Homo sapiens: one gene and its partners. The protein of the gene in region 4 interacts with the protein of the main gene of each other region in a pairwise test. Each region holds a gene or a part of one and is shown on either strand. Other genes may lie near its edges.

The links.
Region 1: the proteins of TMEM248 (region 4) and C2CD2L interact in binary tests that used the Homo sapiens proteins (3 or more experiments, as listed by UniProt).
Region 2: the proteins of TMEM248 (region 4) and ARL6IP1 interact in binary tests that used the Homo sapiens proteins (3 or more experiments, as listed by UniProt).
Region 3: the proteins of TMEM248 (region 4) and GRM2 interact in binary tests that used the Homo sapiens proteins (3 or more experiments, as listed by UniProt).
Region 5: the proteins of TMEM248 (region 4) and MALL interact in binary tests that used the Homo sapiens proteins (3 or more experiments, as listed by UniProt).
Region 6: the proteins of TMEM248 (region 4) and ANKRD46 interact in binary tests that used the Homo sapiens proteins (3 or more experiments, as listed by UniProt).
Region 7: the proteins of TMEM248 (region 4) and SYS1 interact in binary tests that used the Homo sapiens proteins (3 or more experiments, as listed by UniProt).

The regions. Positions count from the first base shown.
Region 1 is NC_000011.10:119,110,344-119,113,843, reverse strand, and holds part of C2CD2L (phospholipid transfer protein C2CD2L), read right to left. Parts: intron 3,284-3,500; coding exon 3,164-3,283; intron 2,998-3,163; coding exon 2,887-2,997; intron 2,793-2,886; coding exon 2,676-2,792; intron 2,582-2,675; coding exon 2,470-2,581; intron 2,324-2,469; coding exon 2,215-2,323; intron 1,517-2,214; coding exon 1,452-1,516; intron 1,363-1,451; coding exon 1,235-1,362; intron 1,145-1,234; coding exon 970-1,144; intron 234-969; coding exon 132-233; intron 1-131.
Region 2 is NC_000016.10:18,795,050-18,798,549, forward strand, and holds part of ARL6IP1 (ADP-ribosylation factor-like protein 6-interacting protein 1), read right to left. Parts: intron 2,996-3,500; coding exon 2,876-2,995; intron 533-2,875; coding exon 415-532; intron 1-414. UniProt on the Homo sapiens protein: Positively regulates SLC1A1/EAAC1-mediated glutamate transport by increasing its affinity for glutamate in a PKC activity-dependent manner.
Region 3 is NC_000003.12:51,713,568-51,717,067, reverse strand, and holds part of GRM2 (metabotropic glutamate receptor 2 isoform a precursor), read right to left. Parts: intron 3,105-3,500; coding exon of another isoform or gene 3,085-3,104; exon of another isoform or gene 3,044-3,084; coding exon of another isoform or gene 2,947-3,043; exon of another isoform or gene 2,007-2,946; coding exon 931-2,006; intron 1-930. UniProt on the Homo sapiens protein: Dimeric G protein-coupled receptor which is activated by the excitatory neurotransmitter L-glutamate. Plays critical roles in modulating synaptic transmission and neuronal excitability.
Region 4 is NC_000007.14:66,941,725-66,945,224, reverse strand, and holds part of TMEM248 (transmembrane protein 248), read right to left. Parts: intron 3,378-3,500; coding exon of another isoform or gene 3,360-3,377; coding exon 3,201-3,359; intron 250-3,200; coding exon 1-249.
Region 5 is NC_000002.12:110,113,023-110,117,087, forward strand, and holds the start of MALL (MAL-like protein), read right to left. Parts: upstream 2,801-4,065; 5' UTR 2,771-2,800; coding exon 2,666-2,770; intron 1-2,665.
Region 6 is NC_000008.11:100,553,260-100,556,759, forward strand, and holds part of ANKRD46 (ankyrin repeat domain-containing protein 46), read right to left. Parts: intron 1-3,500.
Region 7 is NC_000020.11:45,366,156-45,369,709, reverse strand, and holds the end of SYS1 (protein SYS1 homolog), read right to left. Parts: intron 2,836-3,554; coding exon 2,595-2,835; 3' UTR 501-2,594; downstream 1-500. UniProt on the Homo sapiens protein: Involved in protein trafficking. May serve as a receptor for ARFRP1.

The DNA of each region.
Region 1 (3,500 bases), on a different chromosome or scaffold from region 4:
GCAGAGAATGAATAACCTGACTTCTCCCTGGCTCTTTCTTGGATTGGAACTCCTCCTATCCCACCCAGAGTACTTTTTGATGCTGGGGCACCAGGGCCAACCCACACTCATGCACCCCATTCCCCACTCACGGCTGCTGCTATGGGAGGTATTGCTGGGGCCACTGCTCTCACTCAGCACAGTTGTCGTCTTCTCGGTCACCTCCACCTTGGACGGGGAGCGGGAGGGGGAGTCTGGTGGGTGGGGGAGGGTCAGTGAGCTGGGAGTTGCTTCAGAGTGGCCCCCACCCCTACTGTCTTTGTTGAGATGCAGACTTTGGGTGACTCAGAGGGCAAGAATGATTAAAGGGTGATTAATCACAAGGGTGATTAGGAAGATGCCGTGGGGACTAAAAGACACCCCAGGAGCTAATGGGAGTGTAGGAAAGTGCCATGGGGCCTGCTGAAGGTGTGGGGAGATGCTATGAAAATATGGAGCGGGGACAGAGGGGGTACTGGGGCTCCCTGAAGTTGGGGCAATTCAGTGGGGCCCCTATAATGGCAGAAGTGCCATGGGGGCCCACTGAGTGGGGTAGAAATGCCACAGAGGCCTCTGGGTTTGTTGGAGGACCCCAGGGGGTGCTGGAGGGCTGAGGGTAGCAGGATGGACAATTATAGTCAGCTGGGGCTAAGGACACCTGTGAAAAGCCAGAGGGGAAGCTGGAAGGTAGGAGTGCAACAGTCCTGTATGAGGAGGGGCAGGAGGATCCAGAAGGGTGGCAGAGTGAGAGGAATTGCTGGGGAAATGGCAGGAGGTAAGGGAAAGTTTGGAAGAGACAAAGATTGGGAGGAAGATGTGGTAGGACTGGAATGGAATGTCTGAAAACAGGGGGAGTTGGAATTAAGGCTCTCTCCTCTTTCACTGTCCTGCCTTGGGTCTGCAGTCCCGGGCCCCTGGCTAGAGCTGGGCTCCCAGGCTCCTTCTCTTTACCTAATTTGCCGTCTATACGGGGCCGGGACTGGACAGTGGTGACTGTGGTGACAATGGTGCCATCGGGCATGATGGTCCGGTCAAGCTCAATCTTCTTGGTAGGTGTGATGCTGGGGCGTGGAGTGGAGGAGGTGGGAGTACCCAGGTTCCGGGGAGAGCCCTCCTCATAGTGAAGCTGCCCAGGGGTGGGAGAGAGAAGAGACAGAGCCTCGGAGACTGCCCATCCCCTGTGTCCTCCCACCTACCCCAGGGGTCAGCTTCTCACCTCCACTGCCATGGTGGCTGCTGGTCCCAGGGCTTTCCCTGGCCCTGGGGTGAGTGGGCACAACTGTCTTCGAGACAGTGGTCTGGAGGGGGAGCCCACAGGCAGTGTGGCCTGGCCTAGGAGTTCGGCTGGGGAAAGGGATGGCACTGTGAGCTGGGCCCATGGCCAGACCCCACTCTGTACCCACCCAGGGGTGCCCCTCCCACCCCTCACTTACTGTCTCCACAGCTGCTGCTCCTCAGCACTTTGAGGGTCAGCTCCCGGCTCTGGGGGCCCAGATCCCTGTGGGACAAGAGGAGATGGGGCAGGAAGGAGAAAATTAGCAAGCTGAACCCACACTTGAGTGGATCACAGGCCAGAGGCAGAGAGCTGTGTACATAAATAAAACGGCATAAATGCTCCAATCAGATTCTCCTGGCCTCCAAATTCTCTCTCGTCCCAAGAGAAAGGGACAGGGCCTGAGTGGAAACCATGCTTCTCAGCTATGCATTCAAATCCTCCCTGGTCCTGCTCTTCCTGTCTTGCCAGTCTCTCAGTTGCAAGCCACCCTCTTTCATTTGCTCCAGCTCTTCCCTCTGCCGAGAATACTTTCACACTCTGATGAAATCCTACTCTTGCTCTAAAGTGTGGTTTAAATGTCATCTCCTCCATGAAGCCTACTCTGATCCTTATTCCCTCATGGGAATTAATCTCCCCCCCACCTAGGCACTCTGACGGCACATTACATAAACCTCAACTGGAGCGGTTTTACCATCTTCTTTATGTACACCTGTCTCTGCCTCAAGCTTGTCATTGACCCAGGGGTGGGGGCTGTATCTTGGTCAAGTCTGTATCCCTAAGACCCACGCCAGGGCCTGGCATACAATAGGAGCTCACGCCAAAGGCTACTGAAAACAGAGCTGATTCCTGCAAGGACTGTGCTGGAAAGGTTTGATCCTCTCTGCTCTGGAGCATGGGGTCGGGGCAGGGTTACTCCTTACAGTGCCAGGTCTTCTGTCCACTCCACCTCGGATCCAGCCCTCGCGGGCTTGGTCCACTTCTGCTGCATGGGGTTGTCGAGTTCAGCTACACAGCACAGTTCCTCGGTGCCTGTGATGAACCAGAAGTTAGAAGATGCTCAGATCAGAGATGGGAAGTCACTGCAGAATAAAGAGGCTGTACCCTTGGCAGAGGGGCAGAGAGCATCTGCAACCAACCATAGCCTTGGCAGTCCCGCAGCCACTTCCAGCTCTCACCTTCCAGCTCATTTCCCAAGTGAGATGCCCGAAGCTGCCGTAGGAATAACCGGTTAGGTCTGGGGATGGCTGGCTGAGCCTGGGGCATCATGGGTGGCTTCTCACTGGGTACCTAAGAGCAGAAGAAGGTCCAAAGAGCAAGAATCCTGACATAGCACCCTAGGAACAAGGTGCATGCAAATCTTTTGCTTTGGGTGCCAACTCACCAGGCCTCCTGGGGCAGAGCAAGCCCTGAGGTTGACCATCATGGCTGGCTGGGTGCTGACTATGGCATCCTTGATCAGTTCCTCAATTGTGGAGAGCTCCACTTGTTCTTCACCTCTCTGCAGAGAGAAGAAGGGAACAACAAGGAGGTGGATCCCCCACCTCTGCCTCCCTCCCCGTTCTGCCTCTTCTCTGCCAGCTCTGCCTCCTTACCTCCCTGGCCTGAAGCTTGGGAAGCACCGTTAGGCTGAGATCTGGGCGATCAGTGAAGGCCCAGGATATGAGCAGCCCCTCACCAGGGATTTCCTCCAGGTTGACTTCCAACTACAGACAGGAACAAAGTGACTGGGCTGACTTGCCCCATTTACCCAAGGACTCCTAATTCGAGGACTCTCCCTTCCTGAATTCCATCCCAGAGAGGAAACAAATGGAAGAAGCTGAGCCAATGGAACCGCCCCTGCCCAACTCAGTTTCCCACATCCCCTTCTACCTGTGTTGGTGGCAGTGTCAGAGTGACGTGGTAGGTCTCCATGGAGACGGCAGCGGGGGACTGCTGGGTCACAGAGACTGGGAACCGCACCTCCTCAGCAGAGAGCTGGCAACGCAGCACCTGAGACCGGCGAGGTGGGTCAGATGTGGGGGAAGGGTGCTCACCCTGCTTTGAACTGCCCTGTAATAGTTCAGCAGACCCCTCCCCACTTCCGTTTTCCTAAGGACTTCATGTTTTCAGGATCATAAATCCCTAAAAGAATCAGATAAATGCCAAAGACTCCTCTCCCCAGAAAAATGCATATAAACACACATCCAACATTTTGCACATAACTTCA
Region 2 (3,500 bases), on a different chromosome or scaffold from region 4:
TCTGTCACAAAGGCTGGAGTGCAGTGGTGCAAACAGCTCACTGCGCAAACACAGCTCACTGCAGCCTCGACCTCCAGGGCTCAAGTGATCCTCAGCCTTCCATGTAGCTGGGATTATAGGCATTAGCCACTGTGCCCGGCCTAAACAGATGCTTTCTAAGTATATGTCTTTTACTATTATTTCAGTAAGAAAAATGAAACAGAAGAATTTTGTTTTATTAGAATAAAAAATTAAATGCAAAAATGTAATTTTTAACTTTAAAATGATTCAGTCTAATTAATACAGGTAAACATTTATGAATGTACTTAGGAATTAACCAATGAATAATTTTCAAATTATAGCTATTAAGACAAAAAGGCGAATTGACTCAAATCTTAAAATTTTACTGTACTTAAGTCAAAGCAAAAAAAGTACCATCTTAGGTTTTTCTTCCTTTAGTGTGAAGAGGCGTTTCCACCAACCCACAGCTCTGCGTCGAGTTTTTACTAGATTGCTGCAAATTTCATGGAATCTTTGCTGTTGTTCAGTGGTCCTAGAAAAGAAATTTGCCTTTTGCTATAAACAAATCGTTACAGTAGACAAAAACATGACACCCTGTTCAATTTAAGAGCTATCTTCTAAAGAAAATAAAAATAAAAACAATGTTTCACCATTATCTTATGTAGGTGAAAAAATCCTTCCACCATTAAGACACCTTTTATAGCACAGGAGTAAGTATTTACATAAACTATGTGTGTGAGAGAGAGAGTGTGTGTGTGTGTGCGTGTGATAAAGAAAGGATCATCTCTGGCTCTGAAGCCACATTTATTTAATGGTAGTAAAAGACTCATGACTTCTATGGGCCATAAAGAAATCAGTATAAATTTGATTTTGCTATTCCTAAATATTCTTTAGATCCTAGTAAATGCTGCACTATACCTACCAGAATCCCACCGAACAACTGTATTTGAACACTCCTTAGTAAGATACTAACTACTGGCATTTAACACATAACACCCCCAACTGGGCTTCATACATCTGATGACAAGGCAGCAATAAACAGCTCAAATCTAAATTCTTCTTTGTAAATTTATCCCTAGGGAGGGAAAATATAATCAACAAACAACACAGCAGTAAAAATCCAACAAGAGACCCTCCAAGAAAACCTTTTATATTTATAATGTTTTTCTTGGTTCTGATTTTTTTAATTGCCTTTGCACTGTCTTCGCTACACAGCTATAATGGCTGCTATTATTGCCCTGTGCTGAGGGATGTGTTGCCTTCTCTTCTCTAGCCCTCATCTCTGTAAAACTGCAGTGATAGATAAAGTACAAGGATTTCTGCTGAGCCCTGGAACTTCTTTTCAACAATGAGATGTTATTTCTTGCCCATGGTCAAGGCTAGATTGTGGCTATGCAAAAGAGTATTCTTTCTTCCTTGTAAGATCAAAAAATAAACAAAATCTGCTCTATCAATAACTGAGTCACATCACGAAACTATCAGTGGTTATTTCTGCAAACTTTCCTCTAGGAGTTATAAATTAGCAGACTGGAATGTTATCTGGCTAATAAGGCCAAGGTCAGTGATTTATTTCCTTTGCTAACTCTGTTATACTGCACATTCAGAAACTTGCCCAAAAGAGCCAACAACATTGATTCATTACTGCAAGTGAAAAACAATTTGGACAGTTCCTAACACTAATCCATTCTGCTGTTGGGGGAAACACCTTTAAATATTGTCAATTATATCATAATTTAAGCAAACTTTGAATTTGTTCTTAAAGATCCATAAGGTACACATTTAAAATTCTTATATTTACAGAATTATTTTGCAATTTGCTATCCTCTGAGATACAAACAACCAAAGGCACAAGTAGAATACTAACCAAATAAAATAAACAGCCAAGGATAGAATAGCAGCTGAGAAGAAAATATCTATTCCAACTTCTATTTTGGCTGATTATTTGAATCAAAACTCAACATGCTAGAGAAAGTTAAAATACTTTTAATATGATCCTTATCCACTTAACTATATCTGAGGAGTTCATAAGCAACCTCATGGTATAAATAGGCCGGGCACGGTGGCTCACGCCTGTAATCTCAGCACTTTGGGAGGCCGAGGCGGGCGGATCACAAGGTCAGGAGATCGAGACCATCCTGGCTAACATGGTGAAACCCCGTCTCTACTAAAAATAAAAAAAAAAAAAATTAGCCAGGTGTGGTGGTGGGCACCTGTAGTCCCAGCTACTCGGGAGGCTGAGGCAAGAGAATGGCATGAACCTGGGAGGTGGAGCATGCAGTGAGCCAAGAGCGTACTGCACTCCAGCCTGGGCAACAGAGCGAGCCTCCATCTCAAAAAAAAAAAAAAAAAAGAGAATGGTATAAATAAAATCAGCAACCCATGTGTATACAGCTTGAACCTCTTCGGAAACACTTGGTATTCACTTTGTTAACTGCCATTCCACTGCCTCAGTGTCTCAGTATCTCAGCCTTAACACAAGATCAATCTTAAAAGTCAAAATATTTCACAGTACTTTACAGGGCCTGCCACAGTAGGCATTTAATAAATAATTGCTAAATGAATGTGAATGAAAATCTGCCAGTTTCCTTTTCTGTATTCATTCAAAAATAATTTGTGAAGTTATTATACTATCCTAAATATCAATGGAAATGTAAAAATGTATATGTGCATTTACCATAAAAGAACTATGGAGTACAGAAAATTCATAGTTTATATTCAAATCAGTTACAATATTCTTCACATAAAAGCAATAAATCTAATGCTTAGGTGTCTGATGGTTAGACAATTATCTCTGCTTATTTACAGCATACTAATCACAGCCACCAAGTTCAGTAACTACACAAAAATGAGACTGCCAAATCATTATGCTACCTACCATTTATTGGAGCCAAAAATTCTAGGCGCTAGAATGGGAACAAGGTAGTCAGCCAAGCACAAAAACATAACAAAACAGGAAACGCCGGACAGAACAGATGGATCTAGATAGTAGATAATCCTGTTAAAAAAATTAATAAAGGTTAGAAAAACATAGTCATTATTATTCCTAACTAAACATGTCTAACTTAACTATTCACTTAACTATTCACCGCCTCTCAGAGATATTTGCCATTTTTCTTCTAATTTTCTCACAAGTGGCTTTCCAGAGGCTTTGTGACATGCTGATATCATAGCTGCAGTGGTTAAGTATATATCAATGGACAAAAGCTCTTTGGAGTTCTCAGCACTTTTTTAAGAGTTTAGGGAGGTGGGGGACTAGGGGAGGGATAGCATTAGGAGAAATACCTAATGTAGATGAAGGGTTGATGGGTGCAGCAAACCACCATGGCACATGTATATATACCTATGTAACAAACCTGTACATTCTACACATGTTTCCCAGAACTTAAAGTATAATAACAAAAAAAGAGTTTAAGTGTCTGGAGGACAAAAAGTTTGCGAGTCACTGATTTACTCAAGTGCTTTAGGTTACCAAGTTTACAGAAGTACTACAAATTCTGGAA
Region 3 (3,500 bases), on a different chromosome or scaffold from region 4:
TTGGCATGCAAATGCAAATCATATGCAAATGCAGGCTGAGTCAGAGCAGAATCCCTCCCCAGCCCTGGCCTCTACCACCCAAGCAGGTGGCCCAGCAGGTGCAAGCAGAGCAGCCAAGCCCAGCGGTCCCTGGCCCCCAGCACTGTGCCACCACACCTCTGTCCTGGGGAAGGGGCCTTTGCCGGGGCTTTCGCCTCAATTTTTCTGCAGTTCAGACCCTGCTCTGCACTCCCAAGCTGAGTGACCTTGGGCAAGGGATTGAACCTCCCTGAGTCTCTGTTTCTTCATCTGTAAAACGGGAGAGCCATGGAGCTTACTCAAGTTATGAAGATTAACCAAGATAATCTTCTTACTCAGAACATAGCTCATCTGTCACCTCCTCAGAGAGGGCTTCCCTGACCACCCTATCTGAAGCAGCCATTGCCCCTTGGAGCTGGGGAGACCCATTGAGACACAGTGCCAGTTGGAACCAAATTTGCTCAGAAGCCACCAACTGGGGAACAATTTTCACCTGCTTTAGCTTTTCTCAACTCTATACCCTGGATCTCCTCCCCTACCCACCTTGCTTCATCTTTCCTGCCTTCCCTGGCTTCATCTCTCAACCCCTTCTGCAGATGACCCCTCAGTGGAGCAGGGCAGAACCCTGTCCATTTGAACATATTTCTGCACCCCCATCACCTTCCAGGATAGGGGATGACATTCAAGTCCTGAAATCTCAGCTCTCTCTAACTCGAGTTCCCCACCTCCCTGGCCATTTCCCTAGGTCCTATTCAGCCCTCCCACCTTCCCCTTGGGATCCACACAAGCTGTGGTCCCCTGAGTGGGCATTATCCTCTTGGAACCCCAGAGCTACCAGTAGATTAAATAAGATACCAGGAAACAGAGGGTCTGGTGTCCCATCTCCCCCGACCTCTGTGGCAGGTAGCTCACCCGGTAGTCACTGGAGGTGACATAGAAGATGGGCAGGAATGCCAGCCAGATGATGCAGGTGGTGTACATGGTGAAGCCAATGAACTTGGCCTCGTTGAAGTTTTCGGGGCACTTGCGAGTCTTGAAGGCATAAAGCGTGCAGAGCGCGATGAGGAGCACATTGTAGGCCAGCGAGCCCAACATACTTGCATCGCGGTGGTTGCAGCGCAGTGTCACCACCTCCCGCCGTTCGGGGGCTGTCTCCTTGCCTGTGCCCGGTGCCTCCACCACCAGCCAGGCGACCACGATGAGCAGCTGGCCCGAGATAAGTGCCAGGCAGATGGCCACCTGTGAGGCAGGACTGATGAAGCGTGGCCGCTGGGCACCCTCCCGGGCCCCACCGAAGATGCGTGCAATGCGGTTGGTCTTGGTGAGCAGGGCTGAGTAGCAGACAGAGAAGGCAGTGCCCAAACCAAGACGCCGTAAGGTACACACTGCCGTGGATGGCTTGGCAATGAAGATGAAGGTCATGCAGTAGCAGAGGAAGACACCACCCAGCAGGATGTAGCAGAGCTCCCGACCTGAGGCCTTGACCACTGGTGTGGCATTGTGCCGCACAAAGACACCCAGCACAAAGAGGGTGGCCAGGGCACCGAGGCAGGCGATGGTGACAGGTCCCACAGCCCAGGCATCGCCCCAGCGGATGTACTCCTGGGGCAGTTCGAAGCAGCCAGTCAGGCTGGCATTGGGCCAGTAGCCCAGGCCACAATCAGCGCAAGTGAATTCGTCCAATCGGTACTCATAGGGCTGGCACGGAATGCAGAGCCAGCAGCAGACTTCGCCCGGCTGCACACTCTTCACCTCATTCTGGAGGCAGGGCTCACTGCAGCGAGAGGCGGGCAGGGGGCCGGCTGAGGGTGAGGCCCATGGGATGAGGCTGGTGTCCAGAGTCAAGCCTTCTGCCCAGTAGCCCACCTTCTGGTAGCGATAGCGCCCACTGCCTGCACGCAGATAGGTGAAGATGTTGTAGCGGCCAATACCATCACCAAAGCGGTCAAAGCGGACCTCATTGTGGGTGTCAGCTGGGCGAAAGGGGGCTAGGATGGGGGAGGGAAGGAAGAGAAGGTTGGACTAGTGTGTTACCCTGATGTGACCTCAACATTCACCCTAACATGGAACCCAAATGCCAGAGCTAAGACCACCATTAGCCCTTCCAATCCTTAACCCAATACTAAATCCTGCCTTGACCCCAATCATTTTTCTAAATGAGAGATGACAACAAAGTCTTACTCCTAAACTCCAACATCAAACCCCAACCCTAAATGCCAAATGTAATCCCAGCCTTAAAGCCCAGACATCTCCAAAAACCTAATGCCCACATCAATCCCCAACCATGACTCCCCAAATTCAACTTTAGTACTATCCAACACTTTCCAACCCAGGCTCCAAATCCCAACTTCATCGAAACATACACTACAGCCCTCTCCCCAAACTCAATGCTAAGGCTAAACCCAGTCTCAGCTCCAATCCTGTCCCCACTAATCCTAACAACAACCCCAGCTCCAGCACCCCTAGTCCTAACAGTCATCCTGGTGCAAACTGAATCCCAACCTCACTGGTCACCTGCAACCACTGCCATTCACCAGAATGTGGTCAGTGGCTGGAAAATCACTTCCTCTCTCCACCCCCACTTCATCCCCTGTAAACCTCACATCTCCCAGCCAGGCTCTAGCCAGGATTTACAGCCATCCCTGGCCCCAGTGAGAAATCAGGGTTCAAGAAAGCAGAAGACATGCTTAAGGCCCCATGAGTGAATAGTGCAGCCTAGATTCAAACCCAGGTCCCCTCAAGCACCTACTCTTTCTACTCAGCCTAAAAGTTCTCAAAATCCAACTCTAGCCCTACCATAAATTCCACCCAAGCCAAACATGCTGAATTTAGCCTTGCTCTAACATCAACCAAATCGGACCCCAGATTCCAACCCTAACCCCTACACTGATTGTAGCTAACTCTGAATGTCAGTTCTATTGGAAGTACTCTTCATCTTAACCCTGGGCCAGGGCTTCCAAGCTTTGTCTCCCACTGTTCCCACGGTGATTCTTCCTGAAGCATAGTGATGATCTGCAGCAGTCATTTCTCTTAAAGCTGGCACTCTTATTAAAATAACTTTTGATTTCAGGAGACTTTCAGGTCACCTTGAGTGGAAAATCAAGATTAGGAATAGAAATTTTCCCTGAAGCTAGGAGCAGTGCCACATGCCTGTCATCCTAGCTACTCTGGAGACTGAGGCAGAAGGATCGCTTGAGCCCAGGAGTTGGAGGCTGTATTGTGCCTGTGAATAACCACTGCACTCCAGCCTACAAAATATAGTGAGACCCCATCTAAGAAAAGAAAGAAAGAAAGAAAGAAAGAAAAAAGAAAGAAAAGAAAAAAGAAAGACAGAAAGACATTTTCCGTGAATATAGAGCGTCATCCTGATGCTCACCCTCAAGCCAGACTGATTCTAACTCTTGGTGCTGCCTGAGAATGGGCTTGAGGTCTCCTGGTCTCCACCTTTGGCAAGATAAGGAGACAGAAGACAGTGGGCAAGG
Region 4 (3,500 bases):
CAGATGGGTGACGTTGCGGGAATACCCTCCGAAGGGTTTCAGTGGGTCCAGGGTTAGGGTGATTGAGACTGAGATATTCACCGGGCCCGAGTCCTCCAGGGCCTGGGGGGACTGGGTGGAAGCTCGGGCCTGCCCGCTGGTCATTGTACTTTCCGGAGTTGTGGTGTCGTTTGTGAGATGCTTGAGGGTTTCATTCTCTGATACACACAAGTCCAAATCATTGAACCGTAGCAGAAAAGTATTCCAATCCTTTGGGAAAGTGAAAGAAAGAGAAATGGGTGTTAAGCAGCGCCTGTCTCCCACTGCGGGAATACAGGTAAGACCCCAGTGTGGCACCGCAGCACATCAGCAAACTACAATTCAGAGCTGATCATTTAAGATCATGACAACTCGGCCACCACCCTCTTCACAGGCAGCATGATGTGGCTTTCCTAATCACTTTTATATTCACAACCTAAAATATGAACTCTTCACTGGCACAAGATACTCAATAAACTGTGAAATCAAATCAATTTATTCAAGAAAATCTTTTTAAAAAATCCAGCATATTACACTTAGAGAAAATGATCTAGCCTCAGAACCAAACTTGAAAAGAACGCTTGAAGAAAAGCATTAATCCAAACTCATTTTGCAACTACAATTCTTTTCTTTAAATAAAGTCACCTTAAAATAATGTCCCAAAAGGTCAATTCCATACACCTTGCTCTCTTTCTCTAGAACACAAAACAGCAGTGAATACTAATACTCATTTGGGACACTGCCCCCCTTCTTATGGACTTTTGATGACACCTTAGAGCAGCAACGATTTCAAAAAGGAAGGGGCCAGGTACGGTGGCTCGCACCTGTAATCCCAGCACTTTGGGAGGCCAAGGTGGGTGGATCATTTGAGGTCAGGAGTTCGAGACCAGCCTGAGCAACATGGTGAAACCACGTCTCTACTAAAAATACAATAATTAGCCGGGTGTGGTGGTGTGTGCCTGTAATCCCACCTACTTGGGAGGCTGAGGCAGGAGAATCGCTTGAACCTGGGAGGTGGAGGTTGCAGTGAGAGGAGATCGTGCCACTGCACTCCACCCTGGGCGACACAGTGAGACTCTGTCTCAAAAAAAAAAAAAAAAAAAGCCATCTGAGGCCAGGTACGGTAGTTCACGCCTGTAATCCCAGCACTTTGGGAGGCCAAGCAGGGTGGATCACTTGAGGCCAGGAGTTCGAGACCAGCATGGATAACATGGTGAAACCTTGTCTCTACTAAAAATACAAAAATTAGCTGGACATGGTGGCGCATGCCTGTAATCCCAGCTACTTGGAAGGCTGAGGCACGAAAATCGTTTGAAGGGGGGCAGAGGCTGAAGTGAGCCAAGATCGCGCCACTGAAGTCCAGCCTCAGCCTGGGTGTCAGAGTGACACTCCACCTCAAAAAAAAAAAAAAGTCATCTGAGCAACCCCTACCCAGCCCAGTAAGTCTACCCTTACAGCATCAGTTTAACTGTATGTGACATTTAGTAAGACTGCAACTGGATCTATCAAATTACATTTTCCCTAACACCTACAAACTCAACTGACCATTCTAGTACATTAGGGTTGAAAATGAACATTCTAGTCTCAGTCCTTCATAATCCTAGACATGAAGAAACTGAGGCCCAGGGCAAATTAGGGACTCTCCAATTCTAGTTCAAGGTAAAATCAGCATTAAGTTCTGATTCACAGCCCCAAATGTTTCCCATACACCACTGCCTTTCCTACAACCTAGGATCCTCATTTGAAAACAAAAATCACGAAACTAATCATAACCAAAGTTCCGCAGCATCTCAACAATGCGTTCCTACAGAGCTGGAGTCCACGTTGAACAGCTGGCTAAAGCCAATGCCAGGCCTAATTTGGATTATTAAGGGCTAATTATCCAGGCTTCAGTGCAACCACTGGCCTTGGCCAAGTGCTCAACATGGACTCAAGCTCTGCGGGAAAGAAATGGCAGGAGGCTGTGCAGCTTTAGTTTTGAGTAGAATATTCATTTTCAGCCCTGATGTGGGGGCAGCCTGTTTTCACAACCTTTAAAGATTGAGGCAGGGTCAGAAAAGAGAGAGAATTAAGCCAGCCAGTATGTCTCTTAGTAATAAACTCTTTGAAAGGGTTACATGGTAGAAATAGCTAAAACTCGTTACTTGAACTGTGCTAGAAAGAGCTCACATGTGTAGGCGGTTCCTTTTGCCAAGATCACTTAAGATCTAGAATGCCCTAGAGCATGAGAGAAAGCTACGATCTCAATTACATGGAACACAACTCTCCTCTCCATTGCAAGGCACACTCAATGCGGCAACCACGCACTCCCAGCCCCACTCCCACCCCCACCTCCACCCACCAACAAACCCAAGAAGAAGGAAATAGAATAAGAGAAGGCACCCAAGGAATCTACTAAAAGACAGGAATTAGGCTGGATGCGGTGGCTCACACCGGTAATCCCAGCACTTGGGGAGGCCGAGATGGGTGGATCACCTGAGGTCAGGAGTTCGAGACCAGCCTGGCCAACGTGGCGAAACCCCGTCTCTACTAAAAAGACAAAAATTAGCCAGACGTGGTGGCAGGCACCTGTAATCCCAGCTACTCAGGAGGCTGAGGCAGGAGAATCGCTTGAGCCCGGGAGGTGGAAGTTGCAGTGAGCTGAGAGTACGCCACTGCACTCCAGACTAGGTGACGGAGCGAGACTCCGTCTCAAAAAACAAAAAACAAATATATTTGGAAATTAGGTCCTGTTTTTGAATTTCTTTAGGATTCCTTCTTATCTCATGAAAAAAACCATTAGTATAGCTGATAAAACTCCATGATGATATGTGGTTTTAAAATACCAAATGTTCAGTTTTCTAAAACAGCAATGAACCCATTTGAGATGGAATATTACAGAGGTGAGGTCTCCAGCTTTTTGACACAGATCATTTTACAAATGTACTCTCCAAAGTGCATGTTTCACTGCTAAAATAGTCTAACTGAAACTGGTAGCATATTTAAATCGAACAATACCCATCTAGGTATTTCCTAACAAAGTGAGTCCTGGGGAGATGGAAAACAGAAAATTCTGAATAAATACTGATTTTTCTCACTAGGAGAGAAAGGCCAAAACCCAAGAAAGCTATATGGCAAGCCACAGGGTGTTGCCCCACTGCACAAGGACCAGCCAGCCCGGGAGAAGTCAGAGCATACTATACCTCTGCCATTTCTGGGGATTTAATCTCCTTGATTTTGAAGAAGTAGCCCAGGGTCAGGAAAGCTATGGCCATGGCGCTTACGCTGATCATGAAGACCACCAGGGGAGGCCGACTGCTGATGTACACCTTCAGGTTCTCCAGGGGGTTGATGCTGAACATTATTCTGATCAGCTCCACCTGAAAGAAATGAATCAGAAGCTTCAAGGACTGACTTGCCAACAGGAAAGCTATGATTCTTTTGTTTCCTTTTGAGGTGTTGGGGGGTGAGCTGGGTGGGATGGGCACTCATTACTGAATTTG
Region 5 (4,065 bases), on a different chromosome or scaffold from region 4:
AAACATCGTATGTTCTCACTGATATGTGGGAGCTAAGCTATAAGGACACAAAGGCATAAGAATGATACAGTGGACTTTGGGGACTTGGGGAGAAGAGTGGGAGAGGAGTGAGGGATAAAAGACTACAAATATGGGCCAGGCACGGTGGCTCACGCCTGTAATCTCAGCACTTTGGGAGGCCGAGGCAGGCGGATCACGAGGTCAGGAGTTAGACCATCCTGGCTAACACAGTGAAACCCCGTCTCTACTAAAAATACAAAAAAAAAATTAGCTGGGCATGGTGGGGGCACCTGTAGTCCCAGCTACTCGGGAGGCTGAGGCAGGAGAATGGCATGAACCCGGGAGGTGGAGCTTGCAGTGAGCCAAGATCGCGCCACTGCACTCCAGCCTGGACGACAGCGAGACTCTGTCTCAAAAAAAAAAAAAAAAAAAAAAAAAGACTACAAATGTAGTGCAGTGTATACATGGATGATGAGTGCACCAAAATCTTACAAATCACCACTAAAGAACTTACTAATGTAACCAAATACCACCTGTACCCCAATAATTTATGGAAAAATAAATTTTTCAAAAGCACAAAAAAAGAAAAAAACCTAATCAGTACTCTTCAGAAGTGTCAAGATAAGGACCCAGATTTTCCCAAATTAAAGGAGATGAAGGAGATACGGCAACTAAGTGCCATGTGGGATCCTGGACCAGAAAAAGGACATTAGTGAGAAAATTAGCAAAACTGGAGTAAGGTTTATAGAGTACTTGATAGCACAGTATCAGTGTTAGTTTCCTGATTTCAAGAGTTGTACCACGGAAGATGCAGGCATTACCAGCAGCTGAGGGAAGAGTACACAGAACTTTCTCTACTATTATTGCAGCTTTACTGTAAATCTCACGTTACTTAACAGTACAAATAAATGAAGAAAATTGGGCCAATGTGAATTTTGATTGTCATTGAGCCCCTCACCCCCCACAACACGTAAGGCCCCAGAGCCCAACACCAGCGTGCACTTTGCTCTTCCAGGAGTTTCACTGGCAGGAGCAGGGCAGGTGCGGCCAACATGACCTCTCATGTTTCTCACCCTGGGTGCTGTCCTGGTTCCAGAAACTCCGTGCCTCTAGCCTCCTTCCAGGACTTCTCCCCTGGCCTCTAGGCCTTTCCCTCTCTTTCCCCCCAGCCTGTAAATGCCTGTTCTTTGAGGTCCAACTCTTGGTGGCAGGCCTGGACCCCTCCTTGGCCTGGAGAGTTCAGATGGTCCCTCCTTGCTGAGGCCACCATCCACTTGTTGGGAGGAAATGCTCATGAGTCTCTTCCCGGCAGACAGGAAACCACCAGGAGGCAGTGCCCTGTCACCAGGGGCTTGCAGGACTGACATGAACCACAGGCTCAATAAAAAGAGGCAGAGTCAACCAGTACCCCAGCCACCCATGCAGCTGCTCCAAGGTGAGGGGCACACCCAGGGCCTGGCACGTAGGACTCATCAGAGCACGGTTATGTCATCAGTCTGGCAGGATGCCCACGCTGTGCTGGGGATGGTAGCCTTGGCAGAAACCTGCCTCTTAGGTGGGGTTTCAGCTGGAGCCACTCAGATCCTAGGCCCACCCTGCCTGATTCTCTTTCTGGTCGCCATCAATGGCTAACCCGTTCGCCAGTTTGCCTAAAAGTGGCTTGAGGGGGCCCAACTTTGCAAGCAGAAGACGAGAATGAGAAGGGCTGAAAAGTAGATGCACTTTCTATCTTTTCCCCCCTGCTCAGGGACAGCACTGCCAAATTCAGGGCAGGTAAGAAAATACCACCCACAAGCTAGATACTTCAGAAGGTGCTGGAAAAAGAAAACACTCCTTTGCCTTGATTGGACCCCAGGCTTGACTGTGCTCCTCCGTGAAGAGGATGTGGTACCAGCCAGTTCCGAGGGAACTTGTGCAGTGCGGAACGCTGCATACGCACAGCTCTGCAGATGGGAGCAGGCAGGATCCCCAGGGATCAGGGCCACGACTCAGTCGTAGGGCGCCCCAGAGAGTAACACAGCGACAGGTTCTCATTTGCAACCAGGGTGCCGCACACGACTGTTTTATGGCAGATGTTGCCATAGCTACCTGGTGTGGGAGACCCCACAAAAGTCAAAGTTCAAAGTCAGCGGACGTGACAATTAAGAAAACACTGGAAGACCTACTCTCAGAGGGAAACACAGTCTCCTCACTTCAAACCAGAAAGGCACAAATAGTTGGACAAAAGAAGCCGCGTAATTAAAATTCATGTGCAACATCTCCCTGGGAAGCCTGGATATTTTAGCGACGTCCCCCCAGGCCTCCACACTCAAGTGGGTTTTGTTTTGGAGGGAGGAACCCCCTTGGCGGCATAAGACGGGGCACCGAGTGGCATCTGCCTCTTGAGTACAGCTGCGCCCCGCTGTGCGCCCGGTGGGAGGCTGGCAGCCACCGCAGCCCCTGTGCTCGCTCCCCGCTCTCGGTCCGGTCTGGGTCTCTCTCGGCGCGGTCCGGTCTGGGTCCGAGGCCGGTCTCCCCCCCCCTCTCTGCAGGTGGCCCCTGTGCTTGCTGCCCCTCTCTCTTCTCGGTCCGGTCTGGGTCTCTCTCTTCTCGGTCCGGTCTGGGTCCGAGGCCGGTCTCCCCCTCCCTCTCTGCAGGTGGCCCGGGTCGGGGGTGCCGCACTCACCAGCTCGGGCAGGAAGAAGGCGAAAGGGATGGTGAGGAACAGCGCGACCCCCGAGGGCACGTCGGACGGGGCGTAGCTGGTGGCGGGCGGGTCGGGCGAGGCCATGCTGTCAGCCCCTGCCGGGTGCTCCGCGGCAGCTCGCCCGCGCGCAGCCTGTCAAATATCACCTCCTGCCCGACACACCCATCGGACGTCGCCTGGGAGGGAAAAAAAAAAAAAACGTTCCAGCCGAGCAGGTCCTTCCACTCGCTGCAGCCAGCAGATCCTCAGTGGGCGGCCCAGCGGCATCGGATGGCTCTGCCTGGCCGGCGGGGGGCACAGCGCTGGTGCAGGAGGGAGCAGAGCGGGAGTCTCCTCCTAGACCTTTCCAGCTAAGGAATCTTTGACCCCCGGAGCATGTTATTCCAGGGGATGCCAGCGACAGCCACTCCCCTGGGCCCAGAGTGTAGGCCCAAGCTGCTTGGCTACGAGGGCTGCGTACTGAGGACCAACAATGAGCCAAGCTATCTGCAGACAGCCCGGGTGCCCACCACGGCCTGCACGTGGCTGTTTTGCCCTTTTCCAAGTGAGGAGACTGAGAATCAGTGAGGTCAAGTCAAGACCACAGAGCTGGTTACTAACAATGCTGGGTCTTGCCCAGCTCCCTCCTTTTCCACTCTTGGGGACAGCTCTCAGTCCCCAGCCTCCCCTGGGAGGAGCAGCCCTCCCTTCCAGCTCATGCCCCTGGGACTTGGTGTTTCCTTCTTTTTCTGGATCCCTTTCCATGGTCCTCCACTCCTCTTTTCCTCATGGGGCAGATGAAGGCCCCCCAGTCTCTGGGAGAGGACCACACCGGCAGGCACCAGAGAAGGGCTGGGCTGGCTGGCTGCTGCCTCTAGTGGACAACCTCCTTCCTTCCCTGGCCTTCCTTCCAGCCAGTGCCTTGCCCCTAACTGGGCTTGAGACCAAGAAGTTTCTTCCTGACTCCTAGGCAAGTCAGGGAGCTGAATGCAGGGCTGTGACCCAGAGGCAAGCAACTCCTTTCACACCAAATACAAGTCCCAAAGGCTGAACCATTTTCCCCTCCACCTTTGAATTGGCGAACCTTCATTTTCCCGACCCGCCCTGAAACAGTCTGCTCAGGATGCTCCAGGTTAGGGTCCCTTCTTCCTGCCCCCTGCTGCTCCCTGGTGTGGAGAGCATGTGGGGAAGATTGTGTGAGGGCTGGAGTAATTAGAAGAGGCCATGTCTTGATCTCATTAGCAGAAACGGTGAATGCCAGGTCCTGCCCTCAGGGCCACAGGTGGGGAGACCAGCCAGCTTGGCCTTTGCCTGGTCTGGGGAGAGCCAAGGGAGAGAGGAGTTTGGACAAATGAAGCTAAGACCAAAGGCATTGCAAAGAAAGGCAATGAACCCCCCAG
Region 6 (3,500 bases), on a different chromosome or scaffold from region 4:
AGCATTAACAGCCAATGGGCAAAATACAGCCAAAAGACTGAGGAGAGGGCAGAGGGGCAGATTTAAATTAACGTAGCAGCAATGCTGGGCTACTGGAAAAAAGATGACTGATAGTAGGACTAAAACTGCCACCAAAGTTAAAATGCCTATATAAACTGTTTCAACAAAGTCACACTCAGAATATTTTTGTTTTTTTAATTAAACTTACGCAGGCTGGGTGTGGTGGCTCATGCCTGTAATCCTAGCACTTTGGGAGGCCACAGCAGATCACTTGAGGTCAGGAGTTTGAGACCAGCCTGGCCAATATAGTGAAACCCCGTCTCCACTAAAAATACAAAAATTAGCTGGGTGTGATGGCATGTACCTGTAGTCGCAGCTACTTGGGAGGCTGAGACAGGAGAATCGCTTCAACCCAGGAGGCGGAAGCTACAGTGAGCTGAGGTTGCACCACTGCACTCCAGCCTGGGAGACAGAGCAAAACTCCATCTCAAAAACAAACAAACAAAAACCAAAAAAACTCAGGCAAACCAAAAAAGGCATCATAATGTAATAAAAGAAAATATAGGTTATTTGGCTAGTTTTAATATGTTTACTTTAAAAAATAAAATACAGCAGAGTATCTAATGTCATCAAGACCCAATATGGAAAGGTAGCTAAATAAACCATTCGTGCTCTTGCATTTGTTTCTGATTTACTTGGTACCATACCTAAATAATAATGTGCACAAATCTTTTAATTGATTGTATTCAGAATTTATTAAAAGCACCACTTATTGGATAGTTTATTAAATGCATGCAAGTATCTGTATATGATTTCTTCAGCATATGTGTGTTTAAGGCAACATGAGAGAGAGCCAGAGACAGGAAAGCTGTCCATTTTAAAATCAAATTGGTGTATATCTCCTGCTTATTCAACATGTTTTGGTCTTGGAATTGTTTCTCTAATAATGTACTGGCAAGTCAGACGTTAAATTATTTAAGGTTTCTAAACACTGATTTGGTGGAAGTGCTAACAATCCTTGTGAACAAAGATAAGCTTCAGAAAAACTGAACAGCACTAAAAAAAAGTATCTACTTTGGAAAATAATGATCCTTTGTAATTGATTTTGGTTTTAGATATAAAGTTTACATTGGTAATTCTAATGTCTGTTTACCAGTTTAATTTTAAAAAGTACTTGGCTGGGTGCAGTGACTCACACCTATAGTCCCAGCACTTTAGGGAATCTGGAGCAAGAGGATCACTTGAGCCTAAGGATTCCAGACCAGCCTGGGCAACATAGTGTGAAACCCCATCTCTACAAAAAAAATTTAAAAATAAACCTTGCATGGTGGTGCGTGCGTGCCTGTTGTCCCAGATATTCAAGGCTGAGGCAGGAGGATCACTCGAGCCTGGGAGGTGGAGGGTGCATTCAGCCATGATTGTGCCACTGCACTCCAGCCTGAGCAACAGAGCAAAACCCTGTCTCAAAAAAACACAAGGAAAAAAAAAGTACTTAGCCAGGTGCAGTGGCTCATGCCTGTAATCTCAGCAGTTTGAGAGGCTGAGGTGGATCACTTGAGGTCAGGAGTTAGAGACCAGCCTGGCCAACATGATGAAACCCCATCTCCACTAAAAATACAAAAATTAGCTGTGTGTGGTGGTGTGTGCCTGTGGTCCCAGCTACTCAGGAGGCTGAGGCAGGAGAATCGTTTGATGCAGTGAGCCAAGATTGTGCCACTGCACTCCAGCCTGGGTGATAGAGTGAGACTCCATCTCCAAAAAAAAAAAAAAAGTACTTATCACAGAGACATAACCATAAACTTAAGTTCTAATAGTACTGAAAGTTATTTTAAATAGAAATCTTTTACAAACATCACAATAGTGTCTTTTATAGAATGCCTAGACAAAACCCAGTTCTCTAATTATTTTCCTTATAGGAAATCTAGAAAAAACCTTCAGTAGAATGGTACTAGTATGACAAATTCAATATTATAGTCTCAGAAGTTCTTTCATTTTTAAAGGATAAAAAAAAAACCAAAAGAAAGTCAACATGGAGTCAGTGAAAAAATTCTACACCAGAAGCAAAGAGGTGCACTAGATCTACATGAAGAAAAGCACACCACTGAGAATTACTTACAATAAGAAAATGAAAAAAATCCAGAAAAATACTGTGCTCTCAGGGACATACAAAAAATTAAGAACTCAGGGTGGGGGAAAAAACAGTATTAAAGAGGACTGGGACTAAAAAAAAAAAGACTATAAGTTAAATAAAAACACAATAGAAATTTAAAATCCAAATTATAAGCAGTAAGGAAATCAGTGATGGAAGGGCCTAACTTAAGAAGCTATGCAAAAGAAAAAAGTTAGAAAGGATGTGTGAGATGACAGCAATGAGAACAAGAAAGGAGAGCCAACCAATGAAAAATTCCTGGAGAAAAAAACAAGAGCAAAACAAAAGGCACCAACTTAATATTTTCCTCAGCTAAAAAAAAAAAAAAAAAAAAAAAAAAAAAAAAAAAAAAAAGATTTCCACATCTAAAGGACCTGTTATCTTTTAGATAAAATTATTGGATTTAAAAAATCAGTAGCTATAACCCTAAACTTTGAAATATTTTAATCATTTTACATCTACAATGCAACAGATGGCTGTATTTGCTATGGAAAAGGCACATTTATCCAGTCAGGATGGTGTAAATCTGGTATTTTACTGCGTACCTTGATTATTTTGTATTTGGGTTTGGACATTAACTTGCTGAGGGCAGAAACAAGAACCTGAACTCATGCCTTAAGATAAAAATTGCATTCTTTTTATACACCTACTACATTTGAAACTATGCAGTGGCTCAATCATGGCTCACTGAAGCCTCAATCTCCCAGGCCCATGAGATGCTTCCACCTCAGCCTTCCAAGTAGCTGGGACCACAGGTGTGTGCTAGCACGCCCAACTAATTTTAAAGTTTTTTGTAGAGATGAGCTCTCCCTATGTTGTCCAGGCTGGTCTTGAACTCCTGAGCTCAACAGATCCTCCAGTCTCGGCCTCCCAAAGTGTTGGGATTACAGGCATGAGCCACTTCGCCCAGCCCACCCAAGCATTTTTATGGGCTCTGAAATGTACTACGTAAAAAGGACACGCTTTATTGGTTTAGAAAGTTAAGTATACATTATTATTATGATCAGCAGTAGGATAGCTATTTTATTTCCACCAGTCATTGATTAAAACAATCCAAGTGTAGTAGGTATTAATCAGTAGCTTAAGCTGGAAATAAAAATTTACTATGGGAACGACTACAGTGCTTTCAAATAACCGACATATGAAAAATTTACAGCTAACCTCTTCCAAAGAGCTGTCCATACTGCAGTCTCCAATGCTCTTCCTCCTGTTGTCTCTTGAAACCACACCAATCAGGTTTTCTTCCTCACTATTCTCCTGAAAGTGCTCTTGCAAGGTCACCAAGGACCTTCCTATTACTAAATCCAATGGTCATCTCCTAGTCTTCATCTTACTTGACTTGTCAATCAGC
Region 7 (3,554 bases), on a different chromosome or scaffold from region 4:
GGATCATTGAGCCTGGGAGGTTGAGGCTATGATGAGCCAAGATCACACCAGTGCACTCCAGCCTGGGTGACAGAGTAAGACCCTGCCTCAAAAAAAAAAAAAAAAAAAAAAAAGGAAATCTCTGGCTATATTTAATGTACTGCATATCAGCTTTTCTTAGAAAGCTAGTAATGTTTATAAAGTACTATTCATCCTCGGTATTTAAAAAAATTGACAGGACAAGAAGATATGATTATAAGGTGATAAACTATTTAACCAGACTGTTTAGCCAGTCAGAACTTATACATCCCTAACTACTGACCTCTTCAAAATGAGCTTATTAATATCACTATTAGAGCCCAAATCCTGGCTCTGCCAGCTCCTAAAAAGTCACCTTGGGTAAGTTCCTTACAGCTCCCTCATCTGTAAGATACAGATGACGTTACTTCTTACTTCAGAGGGTTCTTGTGAAGATTTTGAAAAGAGACATAAAGCACTCAGCCCACACTGCTGGACACCTCTTAAGCACTCAATAGATGTTATTTATTATTAAAATGACAAACATGTCACTGCCATTGCCCTGCCCTCTCTGGAACTCAACTCTAAAAACTGCTTTTATTGTTACTTTAGAAATCATAAAAATCTCATTAAGGTCACATATTTTTGATCCCCAACTACCATGCAGCTCAGTCTCCATATTACTGAAAAAAAGTTTGGATCACGTGACTTTTGGCCATTTCTAAAAATCAAATTAACACTCAGGGGACAGAGATTTGTCATCACAGAAGATATGCAGAAAAATAGGCACAAGACCTTGAAGTGAATCCCAAAGAGGCGCTCCAACCACAGATGGAGTAACCACCACCACGGCTGGTCAAGGGTGACAGCAGCCACATGATGGGTGTTCTTTCAAAGTTAGTCACATGCCTGCAGTTTGTGTTGTCTAGAGGGAAATTGATTAACCCAGGGAAGGTCATCCCAGCTGGTCTTACCTCCTAGACCCTGCAGCCAGGATTACTGTGCCTCATTAACAAACTGCTTCCTTCCAACTTGGCCAAGGTACCATGAGTTACTGAGGTGCCTCACCCTAGAACCTTCCCAGTCTCTTCCCAGGCATATTTATTCCTAAATCTTCATCCTGTCAGCATCAACTCCCTACTCTGTAGGGCTGAGAGTCAGGAGGTCAGATGAGCTTCTCAGAGAGATAGCAAAACTCATTTGTGTTACCATAAACTCATTTGTGTTACTGACAGCTGAAAACTGACAGCTCTCTTGGGAAAGCTCTGAAGAAACCAAAGAGGAACAGTGAAGGTTTCAATGCGGAAGTGGGTCTAGACTGTGTGCCGCTCCATTGAACATGTTCAGAAATCACTAGCAAGTAGGAACGGAAACCCAAGAATTATGTGGTTCACCTGAGGCATAGCAGGGGACGCTGCAAGTGAAGGAGACAGGATGTAAGAGTTCCCTGCACTGAGTATTTTAACCAAATGGAGGAATGACTCTGGGGTCCAGGAAAGGGAGAAGGTGGCCTAATAATTCTTTAAAGTTCCCTTGCCTGGCTGCGCTGATCTCTCTCAATCTCAACCGTGGCATTACAAAGTAAGTGCAGGCAGAACCATGGAAAATACTGTATTTGTATACACAGGAAGGATAGCTGCAAGCCCCTCACAGAGGAAACTCCACCCCAAAGAAAAATCTTAGCAGCAAATTCCTATCTCCCTCAGCACTATCAGCACAGCCCAGGCCAGAAGGTTGGGCTTCTTGTCTCTGGGAACCCATCATACCCTTCCCGCCAAAGAATTCTAAATAAGGCAGGAAAAAAAATTGGAGTCCAGTGGGAGCTGGGTGCCTGGTCATTCCTAGAAGACAGGCAGTGTCTTTATGATGGTTAGACTTTGAGCAACGCTGGGATTCTTCTCTGGGTCCTATGGCCTGCTATGTTGAGAGCTGGCAGCAGGATGGGGACCTGGTAGAAGGAACTGGAAGAAAGTCATAGGTTCTTGGGTGCACATGAACGTGTGTATAACAGGGCACAGGTTGTGCATTTTCCTTGTGCTTGATGCCTCCATCTGCCATCCTCTCCCTGACAGCAGCCTAATACTTCACACCTACATTTCTTTCTGTGGCTCTGGATCCGGAAACCAAGCGTTTCTCCAACAGAACTGCTGTGATTCGGCAACACTGCAAAGGTAACTGCTGTGATTCGGCAACACTGCAAAGGTAACAGCTGTCCCAGGGGGGTAAGACAGATGACTAAAGAAGTGGTTTGCTCCAATCAGATATCCTTGATTTTTTTTCTCTCTTAAAACAACAGGCTGGTGACAGGTATTGTGGCTCAAGAGTGGCATGGTTCCAATTCTGTTATTACCCTCAAAGAGGTCCCCTTCCTGACCTCTCAGATACCAAGGCTTCAACAGACAGAGGTCATTCTTGCAGCTGTCATGCTGACTGCTACCTGCCTTCTTTGACAGGCCCTCACTATCTCTCCCAAACCAACAGAGACTTCACATTTCCAGGGTTCCTCTCAGATCTGGGCTGGACCTCATCTGGAGGGTCTGAGCAGCCCAAGGTGTTAAGGGGCCCAAGTGTCAGCAGGATGTCCAAAGGGCCTGATTCTAGACATTGGATTTAGGGGCTGAGTTGAGGGGTATCTCCTTGAGCTCCGTCCGCATGCACAGGTACTCCCCGATGACAGCCATGAGTGCAATGCACACGGCTTGGACCAGCCACCAGGTCAGCGCCGAGGGGAAACGGGAGCTGTAGAACCAGCAGCCCAGGAGGTGAAAGAAATGGACAGTGACAGTGAAATCCAGACACTGCTTTCCTCGCCGGATGAAGTACAGCAAGCCCAGGGCACTGTGGGGAGAGGACAGCAGTGAGTTGTCACTGGGTTGTCCTGGCCTTAGGTTATTTGGGAGGGTAGGGACAATTAGGACGGCAGCATAGTGGTCAGAAGTGACGAGATAAGTGTGAAGCAAGGGTTATGATACCAGACGCCTAGAAGAACCTGGCGGGTAATGTCAAGAGTGAAGCTGACTGAGTATGAGCTTGATGATCGATGGCAATTGTCACTAGGGGATCCTAGGAATTGGTGGGGATCATGACACCCTGAAGCATACATGTTCTAGCTAAAGGGGGGCAGTAGCTACTTGCATCTAGGCAAATCTTATCATGCTAGAAGGTTGGCCTGGAATCAGTCAGTCATTCCATTATTCAAGAGAAGCCAGAAATCTGGATTTTTATATAAAATAGCCTGATTTTCAACTAAGTGAAAAAAATGTTTTAAACACCATGTGTGGGCTGACATCTATGTAAGCCAAATAGAACCTATCTGGAAGACAAATTTAGGTCAAAGTCAGCCCACCAGTTTTCAACCTCCGGTGTAAGGACAAGAATAATAATAACATGCAAGGCACTGTTCTAAGTCCTTCTTGTGAATTAACTTATTTAATCCTTACAACTATGAGGTAGGTAATATTACTAGCCCCATTTTACTGATGAGGCAACTGTGGTAGATTAACTTGTCCAAAGTCACTAGACTAGTAGTAAAGCTGAGGTTCAATGCCAAATGAGTC